Linked DNA regions of Homo sapiens. The protein of the gene in region 1 interacts with the protein of each later gene in a pairwise test. Each region holds a gene or a part of one and is shown in the gene's direction. Other genes may lie near its edges. The genes, in order: SLC6A3, DRD2 and RIT2.

Region 1 (7,785 bases):
AAATACAATTGGTTTTCATCAGATCCCATGGCCTTGCTAAATTCATTTATAAATTCTAGTAGTTTTTTTTGTAAATTCCTCAAGATTTTCTACAAACATGAAATCTACCAAGAAAAATCTTGTCATCAATATTTCAATTTTTTTGAAGCCTCCTGCTCTGTAGCCAGACCATTCGCCACTGCCTATGACTACATTTAGGGCCATCCTCTGGCCATCCCTCCTTGGCTAGATGATGAACCTGATGCATGGTTTGAATATGTGCCCACTGGGAAGCTTTCTTTCACTGGTCTTTCACAGAAGGCCATGATGACACAGCCTTTCACTTTCTGGTGGGGGCAGTGTGCTGTGTATAGACACATGTAATCCAGGCCCCAACGCATGCATTTTCTCCGTTCAATGTCATAAGAAACTCTCATGTAGCCAGAGGTCTGGGTTAAGGAAGCGGTCTCCATGCAGCAAGAGTGGGTGCTTGTTCATGGAACTTACCGCGCCTTCCAGACCTGCTCAAGCCTTGTGTCGTAAACATTCCACCTGAGGACGGCAGGATGCTGTCTACACAACCTCTGTGGGTCCGATAACAAATAGCTTCTGCTGGGCCGCTCAGCTTCTATGGTAACAGAGCTCCCTGAGTTTCTGCTATGGCTCAGGGCTGCTCTTACTCAAAAGGAGAGGACGTATTTTCAGGAGAGCGTTCAGCTCTTATTCAACTGTTATTTTCTGCGCTGCCTACAACATCTCCGTCTGCCACAGACCCTCCAATTCCCACTGGTTCTGCCAGATCAGTGTTCTCAAAGTGTGGTTCCTGGGCCAGCAGTGTCAGTGTCACCTGAGAACTTTCTAGAAACGCAGGTCCTCAGGTCCCACCTCAGACCTACTGAACCTGCGTCTCTAAGGATGGAGCGAGGTGATCTGTGCCTCCTATGCATGTAAAGGTTTATGTAGGTGACTGTGATGCCAGCTAAAGTCGGAGAACAACACCAGATTGTGTGGCCTCCTGGGGCAGCAGTTTGCCCATCCAGACCAGCAGCAGAATCTTTCTTACTCTGGGCCCTACTCAAAACCAAACGCTTTATGAAGAACACAAAACAGGCCAGAGAAGCATCCCCGAGTGTCTTGCACCTCACCTTGCAAACCGGAAGAGCCTCACCAGGTATGATACTTCTTTCTTAGTGGTAGTCTTGCTTGCCAGAGACAGCGTGTTTTCTTTCATTTTGGATATATATTTTGACCAATCAGACCAATGGACCCACAGAAAGTTCACCAAGGTGGCAGGTTTTGAAAATGTGTTATTTTCTCTTTCAATTTTTAGCAAGCACGTGTCTTACCAAGGCATCTTGGCATTTTTCATTTTTTGCTCCCCAGGTTGATTCAGCCTGATGTCATCAGTGTGGCAGACCACTGTGACATGCTGTGCAGTGGCAAGACCATCAAGATGTCTGTGACTAAAACCAGCAGTGAGCCGGAAAATGATACAGCTCTGAGAGAAGACATTGGAAGTGTACTGCTGTCCCTGCCATGCGAGAGGAAACTATCTTCCTCCTGAGGTGGCCCCCGGGGAGGGCACAGGGGTGCAGCAGTGAGCAGGGCCTCCTGCCTGGAGCCAGCGCCTTCCATCATTCTCAGAACCTGGACAGACAAGGTCTGGGATCTGACCTCCCACACCCCTGGACAAAAGCCACTCCTGCCTACTGGTCCCCTCACCCTTGCCCTCCCCAAGCCCCCTACCCCCAGGGCCTTCCCAGCACCAGTGAGAGGTCAGGGTCTTTAAAGTCTGAGCTGGGCTCCCTGGGACTTCCTCTGAAAGCACACAGGACACCCTCAATATAGTAAATACGCAGGCAGGTAAATGACTGTCATCTCACTGCCACTGTCCTTGTCCCCTCTCAGATACAGCACTCATGGGGGGAGCATCCACGCTGTCTTCCAAATCAGGCGAGACACGGCGCAACATCCAGCACTGAGGGCCTCCCAGGAGGCAGCACCCAAGGAGGGGGGGACCCGTGGGGCAAGGTTGCTTTGGAGACAGCAGTCAGTGGCCAGGGGCTCCTTGTGGGCTCTGCAGCTGCGGTCCCAGCCAGTGGGGAGAGGTGCCGAGCATGGGCAGGAAGTGCAGAGGCAGGGGGGCTCCACCTGCCTGCACCCAACGCCCTGAGCCCACAGCAGCCATAGCAGCAACCACAATGATAATAAAGCCGACTTGGCATTTAGGGCAAAGTTCCAAGCATGCAAAGGTCGGCCGTTTGATCAGGTCTGATCAGCTCATAACCACACTGCTTCTACCTGCACAGTTCACGGAGCATTCCTGTTGTGGGAGGATGGAGACCCATGGGTCTGGCAGCTGCGCTTTCTCTGTGTCATCCATGAGCCCAACTCCCGCAGTTAGTTTGTTCTTAGAGCACCCAAAGCTCCTTTATCCTAATTCATGTGGTTGGAAGTCGGGGTTGAGGCAGGGGTGGAGGAATGCTCTTTGTCTTGGCAGAGTGCAGGTTACATGCGTGTGATCACTCAGTGGCCCCTCCTGAGTGTGGCAGGTGCATTCTCTGTGTGCTACTGGTCAGTAAGGATGTGGCTGCCTGGATCTGTGTGACCTCTAGTCCCTGCACCTTCCTGCCTGTACCCTGTTAGCTTTGGGTCACAATTCTGCGCTCCTGCAGCGCTTGCAATCCCTTCCCAAACGCTGTTTGCCTGTGTGTTGTTTTGTTTCGAGACAGGGTCTCATCCTGTGGCCCATGGCGCAATCTCAGCTCACTACAACCTCCACCTCCCAGCTTCAAGCTATTCTCCCACCTCTGCCTCCCCAGTAGCTGGGACTACAGGTGTGGGCCACCATGCCTGGCTAATTTTTTTTTTCAAAGTCAGGGTTTTGCCATGTGGCCCAGGCTGGTCTCAAACTCCTGGCCTCAAGAGATCCTCCTTCCTCGGCCTCCCAGAGTGCTGGGATTACAAGCGTGAGCCCTCACTCCTGGCCTGTGTATTTTTAATATACCTGAACATCCATTCTCTCTGTGTGTTTTATTTAACAGCCTCCCTTAGTCACCTGCAAAGTCTTTTCCTTGGGAGACTGTTTCCTCAACCCTGCTGCTCTGGGGCCAAGCCCTGGCTCACTCCTTTTTATTGAAACCTGTGCCATGGAGATAATAGGGGTAGAGAGATCCCTTCTGTGGCAGCCACTGACACACTACAGCTTCGAGGTGGCACATCCCCCTCTCCTGAAGTCCCCTCACCTCCCTGGCGATGAAGTCCCACCCCTGATGGGAGGTGGTGTCAGGAGGCCTTCAGGTGGTCAGGCCAGGAGGGCTCCACCCTGAGGAATGGGACCAGTGCCCTCATAAAACAGACCCCGGAGAGCTCTCCCCAGCCCCTAGCGTGGGGAGATACAGGGAGAGAACTGTCTGCAACCCCGAAGCGGCCCTCACCAGACACAGAGTCGGCCAGGCCTTGGCCTCGGGACACCGGAACCGTTAGAACTGAAGGCTTCTGTGTGAGCCCCCAGGCTGTGGAGTTTTTTGTCATGGCAGCCCCAGGGGGTCACTAGGCTCCCACTTGATTCCAACTCAGCGTGAAGTCACAGCCCTGAGTGCCTTCTGCCTGGGTGCCAGCCCCGGAGCCGGGGAGCGGGGGAGCGGGGGGCGGGGAGGGGAGTGGTGGTGTGCGGGGAGTGCGGGGCGGGCGCAGGGGGTGGGGCACCGCGCTGCGGGCGGGTACTGCGGAGTCAGGCACCAAGGGTCCCTGCCTCCCTCACTGCTGAGCGCGGGCTGCAGGCTGGAATGGCTGGAGAGCCCCAGGGCTCGCCTGGACGCCCAGGGCAGGGTGCTCACGGGAGCATCGAGGGTACACGGGGAGGAACGCCGGGGTTCGGGCGACCCTAGGGGCGACGCACAGAGCTGGGCGCGGCCACTCACCTCGGTGCCTTCTAAGGACCTGGACATCCTGGGCCTTGGCGGCCTGGGGGCTCCATTCCTCCGCGCGCTGAATGGAAGAAATCCCGCCCGGGCATCTCGGAAGGAAAGCCTCGGAGTCCATTCGGCCCTGGAGCCGGATACCAACCGCCAGGGCTTTCCAGGCCCGTCCCGGGAAATGGTTTTCTTAGGCGAGTGCGAGGCGGGCCCCTCGGTTCCGATGCAGGCGCACTAGATGCCGGCAAGGCGGGGACTAGGCCTAGGGGACCTCGGTCGCCTCGAGGTCGCGGAGACCCCAAGGCCACGGAAGGACCCGCGTCTCCGCAGCCCGCACGCCGGGAAGCGTGCAGAGTCCTCGGCGGGGTCCCGAGCCCGCTGGTCAGAGCGTGGAGCGGCGGGGTGGGAGGGACGTGGTCCCCAGAGCGCGGGGCCACCGTAGGGGCCCCTGATGGGGAGGGAGGGAAGGGTCGGCCCGACGGGGTCCCAGCAGTTCCCCGCGCGCAGCCGCTCGGCTCCCTCCCCGTCCAGCTGGGAGCCGCCAGCCCTGGGCGTCCGAAGATAGCGGGTGCCCGGGGCAGCCCCCAGGGGTGCGGGCGAGGGCGCAGGGCGGCCCAGACAGTTCCCGCGTGGAAGGCGCCCGTCTAGATCCGCGACGTCTCGGACCCCCAGGCCCCCGCACCCCGTGTCCGAGGCTCCGGGACGCGCAGGACAGTGGAGCCGTGGCCGCCGCTTGCTCCCAGCCATCTGCGTCCGGGAGGCGGGGGCGGGGGCGCGGCCCGGGGAGGTGAGGAGGAGGAGCCAGGACGCGAGGGCGACCCCGTCGGCGGGAGGGCGGGGCGGGGCGGACCCTGTCTACTGGATAAGAGCCCGAGGCCGAGGCTGAGACCGCCCAGCGCTGCGGAGCGGGAGGGGAGGCTTCGCGGAACGCTCTCGGCGCCAGGACTCGCGTGCAAAGCCCAGGCCCGGGCGGCCAGGTGAGGCCAGCGTCGCTCGCGGCATCGGGGCGCCCCGCTCCTTCCGCAGACCCCGAAGTGGGGCGCAGGGGCGGGGGCCGGGGACCGGGCACAGTCTGGGGTCCCCGCGTCCCGCAGACCGCGCCGTCTCCAAAGTCGCCAACAGTCGCGGGTGCCGAGCGCCCCCCGATAGCGCCACATGGGACCCTGAGGCCGTCCGAGGCGCGAGGAGGGTGCAGGGCTGCCCCTGGCCCCGCTCCAGGCTCAGAACCGGGTGGGCACCTGGTGCAGTCACCGGCTTAGGGGACGCGTGGGTGTCTATGGCTGTGACTCGGGGGTCCTGGTTTCTTCTCGTGGAACTTAACCCTACTAGGGGTGCGGCGCATCCCAGATCCGATCGGAGTGGGTTTTGTACACCGCCGCTCCATCTCGCGGGGGCTTTGTCTGTGTTGGGGGTGGTGGCGGGCGCGGGCTGCGCGCTGGTGCTCTGGGCAGGGCGGGGAGGCCGGGCGAGGACTCGCCAGGCAGCGCCGCTTCTTGTTCTGGGCGCGGTGAGGAAGGACGCTTTCTAACGGGCCACATTTTGCTGTGTAGACCCAAAACTCGCCTCTGAGGCCCCGCGTTCAGGAGCGGGGTCAGGTGGCCCCAGGGCGGCGGCGGCTTGCCGGAGACTCGCGAGCTCCGCACCCGACGCCCTCTCCCAACGCGGCCTCCTGCTCGCGCCGCGGAACCCCTTCGTCGGGTGTTTTACCCACCGGAGGGGTCGTGCCGGTTGAGGTTGTCACCGGGTGCGTGGCATAGCTCGTGATAGCTCATGGGTGAGGTTTTGTGCAAACTTGGATGCAGGGAAAGTTGCCTGTTAGAGCCTCCACCTGCGACCTGCTTCAGTCGTTGTGTGTGTGTGCGCACCTGTGTGAGTGTGAGTGTGTATGTGTGTAAGTGTATGTGCTCGCCTGTGTGTGTGTGAGTGTGTATGTGTGTTTGTGAGTCTGTGTGTGTCTGTGTGTCTGTGTGTGCGTGCGCTCGACTGAAACACGCTGCTGCTGGATCCAAATGACAGAAGTCGCCCTGGCTGGGGCGGTGTAGACGCTCCTGCTCTCCTGCTCAGCGTTGCAGGGGGGTTTATGTAGCCGTTTGGACAGGATTTCCCGGGTTACCCTGCTGGCCCAGGAGCTAGTTCCCGCGATGAAGCCCTGTCCATCCTCCGCCCAGCTCTCTCACGCGGGGTGGTGCCACCTGCCCTAGGTGGATGTGGCTTGTACAGACACTTTTTGAGGAAGCAGTTGTGATGGTTATGTCTAAACTCTCTTTACAGTGGCTGATTTTGCTTATATAAATTTTGCTCTTTATTACTGAGTATAAACAATACAAGCCCAGGCTTGGTGGCTCATGCCTGTCATCTCAGCACTTTGGGAGGCTGAGGCAGGAGGATCGCTTGAGACCAGGAGTTCAAAACCAGCCTTGGCAACAATAGTCAGACCCTGTCTCTACAAAAAAACAACAACAACAACAAAAAAACACACACAAAAATAACTTAGCCGGTGCTGTGGTGCACACCTGTAGTCTCAGCTGCTCAGGAGGCTGAGGTGCAAGGATCACTTGAACCTAGGAGGTTGAGGCAGTGAGTTGTAATCACAACTGTATTCCATCCTGGGTGACAGAGCGAGACCTCATGTTAAAAAAGAAAAAAAAAAGAAAAAAGAATACAGATGAACAGTCATGAAGACATTATTGAATGCTCTTAGAAGATTGTAAAATTGCTCTCTGGAAGTGTGGGGGAAGGTGGAAGTGATATCCATGCATTGTTAGTAGAAAGCCACGCTAGAGCTCACACAGCCTTGCACTTTGATAGGAGTGGGGAGGGGTGCAGGGGAAGGAGGAGCAAACCAGAGTGTCTGTCTTGAGGCCTCCATGGGCCAGTGCCCCAGCCCTGTGGTGAGGGCTGGCACTTCCCAGCTCCCGTGCCCCAGCTGTACCATCTCAGGCGCTGAGAACGCACCCATCCCTTCCCAGAGGAATGCCCGTGAATGCCTCGGGGCTCTGCCCTCCGCACCAGGTATGTCCCTAGCCCTGGCTGCTGAATTGTTGCGTTCCTGTTGTGTGTTTATTTTTCATATTGGCTGAAGACCAAGAGGGAAGAAGCACAGAATTCCTCAACTCCCAGTGTGCCCATGAGTAAGAGCAAATGCTCCGTGGGACTCATGTCTTCCGTGGTGGCCCCGGCTAAGGAGCCCAATGCCGTGGGCCCGAAGGAGGTGGAGCTCATCCTTGTCAAGGAGCAGAACGGAGTGCAGCTCACCAGCTCCACCCTCACCAACCCGCGGCAGAGCCCCGTGGAGGCCCAGGATCGGGAGACCTGGGGCAAGAAGATCGACTTTCTCCTGTCCGTCATTGGCTTTGCTGTGGACCTGGCCAACGTCTGGCGGTTCCCCTACCTGTGCTACAAAAATGGTGGCGGTAAGTCCCATCTCAGCCTCCCTGAGCATGCTGGCCGGGCGGGGGTCGTAGGGGCAGCCGGGGCCAAGGCACGTACGGAAACGAGATGAAGCTGTTCCCATGCGTGAAGACGGAGCTCCCTGTGAGAGCTCACGGCCGGTGCAGATCCTCCCAGAGGATGTCACAAAACCATTGAGCAGGACTCGGAGCTGCCTTGTCCCACGCCTGCATTTCAGAGTTTAGGAAAGGGAGGCCCGCGAAGAAGCTGGGGGGTGGGGGGCGGCAGACGGGGCAGCTTGGCTCTGCCTCCTGTTTCCAGAGGCTATCTTCGCTTTGGAAAGAAAATTCTCAAAGGTCCAAAGAACAGCCTGCGGCTGACTTTGGCAGCCTTTGCAAAGCATGTGGAGGCCCTGGAGCCTGGAGTGGCAGAGGAGGCCCCTGGAAAGTGACTGTGTCCCCTGCACCCTCCAGAACCCAGCCACAGAGCCAGAAAGCGA
Region 2 (7,105 bases), on another chromosome or scaffold:
CCCTCAGGGCCTGCTAAACCCAGGTCAGGCCTTAGCCACCTGGAGCAGGAAAGCTAGAAGTGAATAGGAGGTAAGCTGACCACATGCCCATTTCTGTGGGAGGCAGAGTCAGGAGTGTCTCAGACAGAGGCAACACAAAGCCCCCGCCAGCGTGGAACTTCCTCTCATCAGGGAGGCAAGAGCGATGGCAGGTGTGCACCTCTGGAGATCGTAACAACAAAAGATACAGTGAAGCCTTGAAAATGTGTGGTTCGGTATCTATTATAAGCATCACAGGAATTCTAAGTGGGAATAACACTAAACATACTTGGATTAATGCACAAGGCCCTGAGATAGAGGACAGGCGTCTGGTAGACCTAGAAGGGCACGCAAACATATGAAACACATAGGAACACAAGTGAGTTCAACAGACAGAGCCAAGTTATCTTGCTGCAAACATTAAAAGGTGGCCAACCTCTCCCAATACACAGGTCAGACTAAAAAGATGGTTTACTCTTTTAAAAGTTTTCTTGTGTCATTCTTTCTGGATACATCGGCTTCACTTGTTATGCCCAGACATGGCAAAACTAATGACCAAGTAATGAGGGAATAGTAATGGAAAGACTTGGGAGCAGTCCATCATCACAGCTTAACTTTTTGCTCACAACCGTGTTTTTAATACTCTGGTATCTGCTGTGCGTTTGTGTATATCTAAGATGACCAGGCAGCCTTAAACATCTAGTTGCGTTCATATTCTCTGTAAAATCGCTCCTTGTTCCTGGAAGGACATGAATGGGCTCTTGTGGAATTATGGCCGGTGGGCCCGCTGACTCCCTGCCTGCCCGGGCTCTCCCTCCCCCAGACCAGAACGAGTGCATCATTGCCAACCCGGCCTTCGTGGTCTACTCCTCCATCGTCTCCTTCTACGTGCCCTTCATTGTCACCCTGCTGGTCTACATCAAGATCTACATTGTCCTCCGCAGACGCCGCAAGCGAGTCAACACCAAACGCAGCAGCCGAGCTTTCAGGGCCCACCTGAGGGCTCCACTAAAGGTCTCAAGACACCCCCCAACCAACTCCAAGGGTCCCCACCTAACCATTACCAAGAGGGCTCATCTTATGCTCAGGTGGGGGCTTGGGAAACCTCAGCAAGGGTTAGGTCTAGGCTAAAGGAATTCCCAGGAGCCGGGCAAGGGCAGATTTTGAAGGCATGGACCTCAGTGGAGCAATCTGAGTCTCCAGGAGAGGGAGGCAGGGTCCATGACACTAAATAACAAGGGGAAGTCTTTGCTTGGAGATCTTTGTGACTGAAGGCGGCAACTCTTGCTTGGTACCCCCGTGGGCTCCTCTCTTCCTCTTTTCTGGTTTCTCTGTCTCACTTTAGCTCCCTCTGACTCCTCCATCCTCTTTCCTTTACCTTCCGTACTCTCTGTCCTCCCCTCCAAACACACATCACTTTTCCTGACTTCCTCTCCACTATGTCTCTCCTGTGCTTCTCTTTCATTTCCCCCCTGATGTCTTGTGAATTCTCCCCTTCACTCAGTCCTTCACAAGGAAGACAGTGTGTGGGCACAGAAGGAACAAGAGCTCTTGGGCTAGACGCATCAGGTTCAGATCCTGTCACTGACACTTTTTTTGCTGAGTGACCTTAGGCAAGTTGCTTACCTTCTATGAGCCTGTTTCCTCATCTGTTAAATGGGAATCAAAATACCAGCCTCACAGGGTGGTCTTGAGGATTCCACGTGAGAAGGGACGTGAGTGTGCCTAGCACAGTGCCAGGCCCTTAGCAGGTGCTCCATAAAAAACCAGGTCCTTGTGTTCCTCGTCATACCCACCACTTTTTGTCTCATTCCAGCCTTCCCCCTTGCCCCAACTGCCTCCTCTGGCCCCCACCCTCCTGATCTCTGAGCCCTTCTGCCCAGTCTGAGTTCCATGGACTGCTGCACTTTGGGTTTCTGTCCCCCCTCCATCCCCACCACTTTGTGTGACCCATGTGCTGGCTCACTCCACAGGGCAACTGTACTCACCCCGAGGACATGAAACTCTGCACCGTTATCATGAAGTCTAATGGGAGTTTCCCAGTGAACAGGCGGAGAGTGGTAAGTGCTCAGGCCAGGGACCCAGAGCCAGGTCTTTCTGCCCCTAGGGAAGCCCACTGGCCATGGTTCTGAGACCTCAGAAGCTGGCCAATGGGAGAAGCACCCCAGAAACCCCCACCTTGCCTCAGCTGAAGGCAGACTCACCGTGCACACCTCCAAGCAGGCATGAAGTGAGACACCTCGGTTCTGCAAGGCATGGATGTGTACGAGAAAATGGTTGGCCATACCAACGTAATAAAAATGATAATAATGGCTATTCACATTTCTCAAACATCTACCATATCCCTATTATCTCATCAAATCCTCACCACGACCCCGGGAGGTAAGTCTCTTTGATCGAACCGATCTTCAGTTGACAGAAGAGGAAACAGGCTCAGAAAGATTAGGCAACTCACCCGTCTCAAGAGTTGGTGACACTAAGCCCAGACCTGTGTGACTCTGAAATCCACACCTGTGTTCTTTCCACTGACATGAGCTGCCTTATGGATGGGCAGGTTCTGGGGTAGGACGCAGCAGAGCAGCTGCGGGGACTGGTGGCGGAGCAGTTTGTGTACATAGAGCCCTCAGGTGCGGAAGCACAGCAGACCCCAGCCTCTGCCAGGTGGTAGCTGTACCAACATGCAAGCAGCAGGCATTCCATCCTCCAGAGGGATGGAGAACAGGGCCAGAGAACCCACAGAGGGCCGCATACAAAATCCAGGTCTGGTGTCCTGCCTTCACCTGCACTGCAAGGGCAGGACTCTAAGAAGCTGTTTATGAGGCAGGTGCCAAAACAGAGCCTCAGAGTCAGGGCCAAGGCAGCAGCCCAGTCATGCCACCTAGGCACATAGTGAGGCTGCACTTTAGAAGTTCAGACTAACACCTCCAAGGCCTCAAACAAGAGAACCTATGGAAGAACCCAGGAGGCCATGAGTGGATCCATGCCAGGGCTCTCTAGGTCACCCCAGCAGGGAAGATGTGGGGCCCCAGGGGTCAGCCTTTTGGCACCTAGATTAGTCTATCCAGGAGAATATGGAGCCCACGTGTGTACGCAGGTGCAGGTACCCATGAAGTGGGAGCACTGGGCCCCTTGTTTGACAGGGAGAACAGGGGTGGGCACCCTCTTTGCAGTCGGAACATGAGTTTCTGGAGGCAGGGCCAAACATCATCAGCTCTTGACCCCAGCAGCCACTGTGGCACCTGGCACTTTGCTAACAGTAAGTGTTGCTCAGGCCATGAGAGACAAGTCCCTGGTATTCAGCCCTGGCAGAACAGAAGTGGGGTATTGAGGCTGCATGAGGATTGCCATGGGAAAAAGGACAGGGGCAATCCTGCAGGGGCTGCCATGGGTCCTGGGTCCCATGCCTCAGTGACATCCTTGCCTCCCTGGCAGGGTGACCCTGTGGTGTTTGCAGGAGTCTTCAGAGGGGGAAAGGGAGGGGCCAGTGAGATGGGTGGCTGATGCCTGGGAACTTGTCCGGCTTTACCCAGAGCCCTCTGCCTCTGGTGCAGGAGGCTGCCCGGCGAGCCCAGGAGCTGGAGATGGAGATGCTCTCCAGCACCAGCCCACCCGAGAGGACCCGGTACAGCCCCATCCCACCCAGCCACCACCAGCTGACTCTCCCCGACCCGTCCCACCATGGTCTCCACAGCACTCCCGACAGCCCCGCCAAACCAGAGAAGAATGGGCATGCCAAAGACCACCCCAAGATTGCCAAGATCTTTGAGATCCAGACCATGCCCAATGGCAAAACCCGGACCTCCCTCAAGACCATGAGCCGTAGGAAGCTCTCCCAGCAGAAGGAGAAGAAAGCCACTCAGATGCTCGCCATTGTTCTCGGTGAGTCGGCCCTGGCTGCTGGCCACAGCCCGGTCTGTGAAAGGTCCCATTCCCTGCCATGTCCTTCCTAACCATGGCTGCAGGATCATGGGGCTAGCATTTCCTCAGGCACAGGCCAAGCCCATTGACATACAGACAGCCCTATTAGGTAGATTCTGTAATTGTGCTCACTTTACAGATGGGCAAACAGAGTTTTAGAGTGGTTATAAAACCTGACCAAGAGGACCCATGGTTTGAACTCAGGCAGTCTGACTCCAGAGTCTGGAAATTTGACTAGTCTATTATGCTGGCACCAGAACCTCATGGGCCTATGTGCCCAGGAAAGTCACTTTCTCTCTCTAGGCTCCTCATCTGTAGAGTAGGTTACTTCTCAGGGCTGTCATGGCAATCAGTTGGTGAAAGCATTTTCTAAACTACAAAGCACTATCCATATGTAAGTGTCACTATTATGGTTTTTATTACTATTGCTCTTTTTGAGGAATTGGGAAATTCAGTTCACTTGCACTCAAACAAGACTCCATGGGACCAGAGCTGTGAAAAATAAATGAGATGTTGGGGAGTGGCCCCCAATCTAAATGAAAAGCATCCCTGTCCATAAAGCAGGATTTTTCAATAGAAGTCTAGAAAACCACATAGTAAAGGTCAAAACCCAAAAGGTGGACTGATATGGGTGGCTGGGAAAAGGAGGGTCCCCTGTGACTCTGTCTTCCAGGAAGCACCTGAATCCCCTTTGACTGCCGGATGATCCTGGGGCGTGAGTGGGGCAGCTGTTACCTCCCTTCTTTTATGAATGAGAGCACTTGATCCCATGGGACTACTCACGATCATGGGACTGGGATATGGTAGGCTAGGATTGGAGCCAGGCCCTCTGCTGCAGTCCATAGGGGCTCAGCTCTGTGGCCCTACTCTTCCCAGACACCATTCAGTCTCCAGGGATGCCTCCTGTGCCTGTAGGGCATTCCATGTACACATTGCTTCCAGGATAAATATCACACCTGTGCAGGAGGTCCTGGAAAAAGTGCACCTGAGTTAGGTGAGCAGAGCAGGTAGGTGGCTGCCCTGGGTGAGAGGGCATGGTTCAAGGCAGGGACTAGCAAGGGTGTACCCACCAAGACTGGGGAAATTGGGGGAAGGCTAGAGCGAGATCATCTGGGGACCTGGATAGACCGGAGTTCAGCTCTCAGCCTCGCTGCTCAAGAGTGAATGACCTTGGGTATATTGCAGAGCTGTTGTGAGTGTTTTTCTTATGTACCTTATGAGGATGCTATAAGAACTAAGTGGCATGGGTCTATAGCCCTCAAAGATGACCTGGAAGTAGAGTAGATATTTCCATTTCTACTGGCTAACCTGGGTCAGAATGGTAACCTTTTGGATTTATTGTTAAACCATGTACCCTTTTCTAGGAGGTGGGAAAGGGACAAATGAGGGAAGTGAGGCTGAAGGAGCTGAAGGGATACTTCACTGCAAATGGGTGTCAGAGGCAGGTCTAGGATCCAAGACCTGGACTCCTCCTACAGTGCTTCTGTGGCTACAGCCCACCGTCTTGGCATACGAGCCAGGGCGCACTGGGTGTGGGTGTTCCCAGCCGTGCCTCCCCGGCTCTGGGGACCAGCCTGACCATGCCCTCTCCCCCAGGCGTGTTCATCATCTGCTGGCTGCCCTTCTTCATCACACACATCCTGAACATACACTGTGACTGCAACATCCCGCCTGTCCTGTACAGCGCCTTCACGTGGCTGGGCTATGTCAACAGCGCCGTGAACCCCATCATCTACACCACCTTCAACATTGAGTTCCGCAAGGCCTTCCTGAAGATCCTCCACTGCTGACTCTGCTGCCTGCCCGCACAGCAGCCTGCTTCCCACCTCCCTGCCCAGGCCGGCCAGCCTCACCCTTGCGAACCGTGAGCAGGAAGGCCTGGGTGGATCGGCCTCCTCTTCACCCCGGCAGGCCCTGCAGTGTTCGCTTGGCTCCATGCTCCTCACTGCCCGCACACCCTCACTCTGCCAGGGCAGTGCTAGTGAGCTGGGCATGGTACCAGCCCTGGGGCTGGGCCCCCCAGCTCAGGGGCAGCTCATAGAGTCCCCCCTCCCACCTCCAGTCCCCCTATCCTTGGCACCAAAGATGCAGCCGCCTTCCTTGACCTTCCTCTGGGGCTCTAGGGTTGCTGGAGCCTGAGTCAGGGCCCAGAGGCTGAGTTTTCTCTTTGTGGGGCTTGGCGTGGAGCAGGCGGTGGGGAGAGATGGACAGTTCACACCCTGCAAGGCCCACAGGAGGCAAGCAAGCTCTCTTGCCGAGGAGCCAGGCAACTTCAGTCCTGGGAGACCCATGTAAATACCAGACTGCAGGTTGGACCCCAGAGATTCCCAAGCCAAAAACCTTAGCTCCCTCCCGCACCCCGATGTGGACCTCTACTTTCCAGGCTAGTCCGGACCCACCTCACCCCGTTACAGCTCCCCAAGTGGTTTCCACATGCTCTGAGAAGAGGAGCCCTCATCTTGAAGGGCCCAGGAGGGTCTATGGGGAGAGGAACTCCTTGGCCTAGCCCACCCTGCTGCCTTCTGACGGCCCTGCAATGTATCCCTTCTCACAGCACATGCTGGCCAGCCTGGGGCCTGGCAGGGAGGTCAGGCCCTGGAACTCTATCTGGGCCTGGGCTAGGGGACATCAGAGGTTCTTTGAGGGACTGCCTCTGCCACACTCTGACGCAAAACCACTTTCCTTTTCTATTCCTTCTGGCCTTTCCTCTCTCCTGTTTCCCTTCCCTTCCACTGCCTCTGCCTTAGAGGAGCCCACGGCTAAGAGGCTGCTGAAAACCATCTGGCCTGGCCTGGCCCTGCCCTGAGGAAGGAGGGGAAGCTGCAGCTTGGGAGAGCCCCTGGGGCCTAGACTCTGTAACATCACTATCCATGCACCAAACTAATAAAACTTTGACGAGTCACCTTCCAGGACCCCTGGGTAGAAGGCAGCAGTGCCACTTCTGTGCTTGGCATTCAAGTATAGCAAGACCCCTGTGTCTGCAGGGTCTAACCCAAGGGAAGCCAGGTTGCCCCCACTGCTCCACCTCCCCTGTTGCAGCTCCTGCTTCCTCTGAAGGACTCATCCTTTGCCCTCTTACCCACCAGGGCAGAGAAGGCTCTGTGGAAAAGGTGGCCTTGGATGCACTGGCATTGCCTGTGTCTGCCTATGTCCCTTGCCCTGTCTTCTG
Region 3 (7,105 bases), on another chromosome or scaffold:
TTTTTCCTGCAGGCAGAATTCACAGCCATGCGGGAGCAGTACATGCGAGGTGGGGAAGGCTTCATCATCTGCTACTCCGTCACTGACCGTCAATCATTTCAGGAGGCTGCCAAGTTTAAAGAGCTCATTTTTCAGGTCCGCCACACCTATGAAATTCCCCTGGTGCTGGTGGGTAACAAAATTGATCTGGAACAGTTCCGCCAGGTGAGTGCCGATTTTATCTGGTAGCTTCTGTCTTTTGCTCTGAGGATGCATAGTACAAAATATGGCTGCTTTCCCAGGTTCACACTGAAAATTATGAGAAAGAAATTATGCACATGATTTTTCTAATAAGTCATGGTGGTCCCATGGTAAATTGTGTTGGCCTCCATAATATATTTTACCACATATGCTATTTTGCAGAGTGCCCTTACTAGTGCCCTATCCCCTAGGATCTGGGATTGTATACTGAATACAGTAGAAATGATTCTTGTTGACTTCTGAAGTGTAGCCTTAAGATTTCTGCAGTTTCTGCCATTGCCGCTTGAACTGCTTACCCTTGAGTTCAAGTAAAGAAGCCCAAGCTAACCATGAGAAGATAGTCATGTGGACAAAATGAGATTCAGGCTCACAGCTGTCCCTGCCAAGATACTACACATGTGGGCAAAGCCACTTTGCATGTTTCAGCACCAGCCACCATGTAACTGTAACCTCATAACATAGCCAGCCAATCCACATAGAACACGAAAATCTCCCAGGTAAGCCTTGTCTGGATTTCTGACCTAGAGAATCAGTGGCAAATAAAATGAAATTGTTTACGCTACCATGTTTTGGGGGTAATTTTTCATGCAGCAATAGATGATCAAAACAGAATCTTTCCCTCCTTCCAGAATTAGAACAAGCCACTACTTCTCAGGTTGCATCAGAAATTACTCTTATATACCATCCATTTCCTTCAGGCTGCATCTGCTGTATCAATGTGATCAATAGAGAGTCTCAAAACTTCTCCGAACAAACAAAATTGATAAGGAAGAAACTGTGGCTAGCTTAGACTGGGATCCATTACCGTAACTTACATAGTTCATTCATTATATTTTCTTCTCTTCTGGTCAGACACTACTTCTTGGGCAATAACAGATGGCCGAACTATGATGGCTTCCTCCCTGAGATCTCAAGATAGTAATGATAAATCAGTTGCCCTGGTTCAAGAATCAGGCAAATCATATCACAATTCCATTCCCATGACTCACATTGTACAAAGTAACATTACTGAGAAGTGTCATGCAAATCAAATTTTTGTAAATCTAATTTTCTAAATTGAGTTGCTTTGTTATAAATTGAGATGCTTCATCTTTCTTTTCGTTGACCTTAAATTTGAACTGGCTTTTAATAGTTCATGTTATTCCAGCTAATGATTTATTGTTAGCCTATTTAAATTAGTCAACTAGTAAAACCTTTTACTAACGTAGGAATCTTCACTAAAACAAATAGTTGTCTCCTATCTTAAGGGTATTATAAATATGAATTTTCATGCTTAATATGCTTTAAGTTTTCTTAAATTGAAAAGATCTCATACAGAGTCCATGTTTACAAGTTGATGTTTAACCGGGAACGTATTTCTATGATTTAGTGCAATGCATTTTTGTGGTGATATTTTTGTATATTTTACTTGAGAATCTAAGCATCTTAAAATGGCAGCTAATTATTGTTTTAGGAACTGTAATATTTGTTCATCTCTTCTGCAACTGTTCTGCTGTCTTACTTTGCTGTTTCTCTTTCTCCAAAGACATGTTCAGCATGATATGTTGCATTTCTATGGGTTAAGAATTCAAGTTTATCTCATCAGTTAAATATAATCTATTTTAGATAACTTGGCAGAAAGGAAGAAAGTTGGAGGCTTAGTAGCTGAACCTTTCCTATACTCCTCTGAAGAGTGCTAGTGCTTTACTTTTCTTAGGGCCTCTAGGAACTAGTGTGACAAAGCACCCTAAATGTGCCACCAAGTGATCATATGCCCATTTTTGTTGCACTTCTAAGAATTCCTGGAGAACAAAAACCTCTGACAGGGTTTCAGTTAGGAAAGCTATAAGTGACTCTGAAAAACTAGTGAATTTGAAAACATTCAGGAAACATTTTTTCAGGCCAAAAATCAACTAAACTTTCTCTACAATGATTGCTCTTCATGACTCCAAAGCTGGCTGACATTTACTTTTCCTTCACTCTCCAGGCCCTGTCTTACCAGGCTCAAAGGTGATACTTAGGATCTCACAAAGGCATGTTTATCAGAACCCCTATCCCAGCCTGGTTAATTAGCTGCTCCTTTCAGATTAGCAGTGAAGTGAATTGCAAGCATTACAAATGTCACTGAAATTAAAACCCAGGCAAAGATACTAAGTTGAGTAACTTTGCAGATTTGATAGTCTTTTCCTTGTAGATAAAAGCAAGTACTGTAAACAAGATAGTCACAGAAAGTGCGAAAACCATGAAAACACAAATTGCAATCTTTGCAAAAATGTTTGTGTACCACTGTCTCCAGTAATGAAGTGTTGATGTAAAAATTTGGCTTCTGGCTGTGGTTGTGATAGCAATAATTATTCTTAAAACTGCAGAGTGGTTTTTTCTGAGCAAAATGATTTCAATTCACACTTTTATCTTGTAACCACTCTGTGTATTTGTAAGCCAAGCATTTGAAGAATGAGGACATCTGACAAATGAATATATTGATAGCAATTGACTTTACTAAACTATTGCAGCTAGTGACAAAATTAAGACTAAAACACTGTCATATTGTACTCTTTTTGTTCATCAGTATCTGAAAGGTTAGGTTTCTGTTTCTTCATATAAAAAAAAAAAAGCAGACTCAAAAGAAAAATAAAGATGCTGACACCTGGATGGTTTGCAGCTCAAAAGAATTCTCTGAGAATTCCTAGAGTGATAAAGTTAAACTCTCAACGGTGAAATTACACTGGTGCTATTGTTTAGTGGTGAGAGGCAAAGGAGTAGGATTCTCACTAAGCAATTCTTATTCCTTATCAGCCTACACTGAAAGAGTTTGGAAGGGAAGAATTCTGATGGTTGAAGCTGCTTCTTTTCATATTTGGTAAGAATAGGTGCCTGTATTCTTAATGCATTTTGGGAAATCCCAGGGCCCTTTCTAAAAAAGATAAAAAGAAAAAAAACAAAAAGACAACGAGTTTTAGTGTATTATGTGTTTATCATTATTCACCTCCTTGAGCTTTAATGTGGAAGGATTCAAAGGATAGTATTTAATCTGTGAAAAATATTCATTTTGATGGTGATATTACTGATGATACATTTAGTGTTTTCAAGGCTCTGTGCTGGGCACGTTACACACAAGATTTTATTTAATCCTCACCGCAAGACCAAGAAGTAGTCTCCTTTATACCTATTTACATATGAGTCAACTGAATCTCTGATACATTCAATAACTTGTTCAAGGTCACACAGCTAGTTAGAGTTGAGAGACAAAACCCAGTGTATTCTGACTTAAAATCTCACTGTGTCTTATGGTTGGCCTACAAACCATTGTCATTTTATCATGAACTTATTTTTTTATATCAGCTTCAAGATACTAGCATGCTTCTTAGAGCAGTAGCATCTTATGGACAAGGAGGAGCAGGAAGAATCAGGATAATAATTCTTTGGGTTTGGAGTGGGCAGTTCCAGGCCATGGATAAGCCAGTAGTAGCCCAAAGTTGGTTTCCTTACCCTTTTGGTGGGAGGAAAAATAAAAGTAAGGAAATGGGTTTCAAAATTACTGGAAAGTTGTGTTTTATAACAGCCAAAAAATTCTGTCCAAAGTTTATCCAGACTATTCTAAAGTCTGTCTTAATTCCTGAACAACATTAGGTCCTTGAGCTCCCAAGGTCTTTGTCCCTATTCATGCAGGCTTCTGTCTTCCCACTGGAGAATAGAAGGAGATAGGCCCGGATTTCTCTTTTTCCAAAACCCTGACCGGCTGTGCAAAGTAGAAGCAGTCTATGAGTGAAGGAAGTTTCAGGGATTTGGGAGCTAGGTTAGAACGTTTTATGTCAATTGCAGACCACAAACTTTTTTTTTTTTGAGATGGAGTCTCGCTCTGTCACCCAGGCTGGAGTGCAGTGGTACAATCTCCACTCACTGCAACTTCCACCTCCCAGCTTCAAGTGATTCTCCTGCTTCAGCCTCCCACGTAGCTGGGATTACAGGTGCCCACCATCATGCCCAGCTAATTTTTGTATTTTTAGTAAAGACGTGGTTTCACTATGTTGGCCAGGCTGGTCTTGATCTCCTGACCTCAGGTGATCCTCCAGCCTCGGCTGCCCAAAGTGCTGGGATTACAGGCATAAGCTACTGCGCCCGGCCAAACTGTTTTATCCTGAAGATATCCTGAAGATAGACAAACCTTTCGGTACCAACAGTGTAATTGCAGCTTAATTCTCAGCTTTAGGCCTTGAAACTCTGCTTCCCACAGTCTGTGTAACTCTTGAAGTACTGAGTTGAAATCATGAAAGGCCTTTATTTATTCTTTAGTGATATATCTAATTAAAATAGTTTCATTTCTTTACTTAGAGGGGTATTTGGAACCATGAGAATTAGGAATTACTGGATTAAAAAAGCATAATATCTATTTAGAGTTCTATCAAGCATCTATTTATCTTTGGAGAGTCGTGATGGTTTTGGAATATAGTAAAGGCATGAGTAATCCAGTCCCTGTCCTCAAGAACTTTCTGTTCTTCTCAGGATCTGTGCATATGATGTAGGGAGAAAGCCCCCCTTAAATAATACAATTACATGTTGAACAATATAGCACAATTCATAGGTGCAATGCTTTTTGAAAACCAGGAGAGACCCATGTGGGTAGCACATTTGAAGAACGAAGATACTGAATGAATGGATGAATATCTTGACCAAGTAAGAAAGATAAGGTGAATGGTGACGGTTATTTTAGGAAGGACTGAAAAGGATCAATCTAGAGAGGAAGAAAGAAACCTTGGGTCTTAGGAGTGTACACAAGCAGTAGAGTGATCACTGGGAAACTTGGAAGATAAATCTGCCTAGTACACACATATCAAGCGTCCTAAGCATAATTTCATAGTGTCTCCCTTGTAGACACATTTAATCAAAGACAAAACATAAATATGTAGCAGAGCATATTGGATATAATGTAATGCAGTAATTAATTGCAAATACCACTCAAACTTAAAAAAATAAGAGTAGTGCTTAATTATCTTTCATCATCAGTGCATTGGAAAATTTATATAAACATATTTTCCAAATGATGAGGGCTTATTTTTTGAAGAGAAAAAAAGGTTCGGTAATTTACTCATTATTTTGGGATAGATAGCCAAATTCAATTAACAATTAATTAGCTTTATTTATCTTTTCCATAGCATTTTGTAATATGTTATTTAATTAAATTAAATAAATGTGAATGTATTAACTCCAATTGAGACAGAAAACAAAACAAAACAAAGCTTAAGAGTTTCACATGATTTATCCAAACTGGATGGTTGTAGAACTGGAATTTGAGTTACCTTAGCTTACACATATATGTTTTCGCTACTGTCATTTTTTAAATTTAATTCATTTTCCCAATGGGTAACAAGCACTCTTTCAGAATCTGGGAATACACAAATGAACTTGACAGCTAATATCTCTATGTGCAATAATGTGAAGTTACAGTGGAGGAGACAGACAATGAACAATTTGAGTATGGGTATGTGTATTCTAACTGCACAATGCAAAAATGGTACTAGGAATAAAATTATACACATTCAAATATGCATGCATACATACACACATGTGTACACAGTTCTGAGCAGTGAAAAGGGCAAAGGAGAAAAATGAAGCAAGGGAAGGGGTTGGCATGTGGAGTGTAAGAATCAGAGCTGTATTTTCTCTAGGGTGGTCAAGATGGTCTCTCTAAAAAGATGGCATTGAGCACAACTCCGGAGTGTGGGGAGGATTTGGGTGAAGAGCATTCCAGACAGAACAAATAGCACTTGCAAAATCTTCACAATTGGATTTAGCTTAGCATGTTTGAGAGCCATAATAGCTGGTGAGGAGGCAGGGTCAGGTTATGTAGAGCTAAAAAGTTCTTTGGTAAGAGTTTGGATTTTATTTAAGTTTGAACAACAATTGTTTAAAACATTTGAGCAGAATTGTGGTATGAATACATTTCTATTTAGTCAGTCTTGTCGTTGGTTGGAGCAACCATGAAGCAGCGAGATGCATTTGGAGGCTCTTTCAGTCATCAGAATGAGAAATGATGGTAGCTTGAGTGAAAGGGATAGTGCTTGCTGACTGTTCACGAATTCCATACTCATACTGCACACTGACAGGATGGCAAGTGACAAGATTACAGTGAGGTTTAGAGCCCTTTCATGTAACAACAAATTCTTCTACATTCCTCAGTGATACCTGAGGTCATTACTGCATTATCACACAATCCAGTGGGTGTCCATGATGGAGTCCTCATGACATTTTTAAGAAATGTAAGCAGCATACAGAAACTAACAGATGATGTAGTTGAAAGAATCAGATAGTCCTGGGTTTGAATTGTTACTCAGATGATTACTGTGTCCTTGGACAAATCAGTGACAGACACTGATTTGTACCTGTTGTTCAGAGAAGTACTTCCTGTCCAGCACAGAAGTAGGAAGATATAATTCATAGATAGCTTCCGGCCATCAAGTGCTTAAAGGGTCAGCCTCAGCTACATAGAGCCTCCTTGCCTGATGTCACACCCTTTCTGGGGAAACTCATTTCCAGTTAAGTGTAGGCATACATTTCCAGCCATTTCAGTCCAATGTGAGATACTGACAGGCAAATCTTGCTAGGGAGCCCCCACTAGTTTGGTAAAGACTCTGTTGGGTTTGCATTAACGTTCAACTTCTCCCTCTGCTCAACCCTGCTTCCTTCTCCTTCCTTTCAGAAATGTTGATTCCTAATAAACATCTTGCGCTTCAGACTCTGTCTCAGTGTCTACGTCTGTAAAATAGGATGATAATATCTCTGTCATTGTTTTTTGGGTGGGACAGATGAGATAATGTCAGTAGGTTATCTAGCACAGTGTATGTCACAGAGTAGCGCCTCAATAAATACTGGGTGCTACTATCCCTAT

What was found.
Region 2: the proteins of SLC6A3 (region 1) and DRD2 interact in binary tests that used the Homo sapiens proteins (3 or more experiments, as listed by UniProt).
Region 3: the proteins of SLC6A3 (region 1) and RIT2 interact in binary tests that used the Homo sapiens proteins (3 or more experiments, as listed by UniProt).

The regions. Positions count from the first base shown.
Region 1 is NC_000005.10:1,442,436-1,450,220, reverse strand, and holds the start of SLC6A3 (sodium-dependent dopamine transporter), read left to right. Parts: upstream 1-4,780; 5' UTR 4,781-4,873; intron 4,874-6,978; 5' UTR 6,979-7,023; coding exon 7,024-7,309; intron 7,310-7,785. UniProt on the Homo sapiens protein: Mediates sodium- and chloride-dependent transport of dopamine. Also mediates sodium- and chloride-dependent transport of norepinephrine (also known as noradrenaline). Regulator of light-dependent retinal hyaloid vessel regression, downstream of OPN5 signaling.
Region 2 is NC_000011.10:113,409,348-113,416,452, reverse strand, and holds the end of DRD2 (D(2) dopamine receptor), read left to right. Parts: intron 1-841; coding exon 842-1,032; intron 1,033-1,991; coding exon 1,992-2,078; intron 2,079-3,569; coding exon 3,570-3,897; intron 3,898-5,532; coding exon 5,533-5,726; 3' UTR 5,727-6,848; downstream 6,849-7,105. UniProt on the Homo sapiens protein: Dopamine receptor whose activity is mediated by G proteins which inhibit adenylyl cyclase. Positively regulates postnatal regression of retinal hyaloid vessels via suppression of VEGFR2/KDR activity, downstream of OPN5.
Region 3 is NC_000018.10:42,916,671-42,923,775, reverse strand, and holds part of RIT2 (GTP-binding protein Rit2), read left to right. Parts: intron 1-12; coding exon 13-204; intron 205-3,015; coding exon of another isoform or gene 3,016-3,051; exon of another isoform or gene 3,052-3,079; intron 3,080-7,105.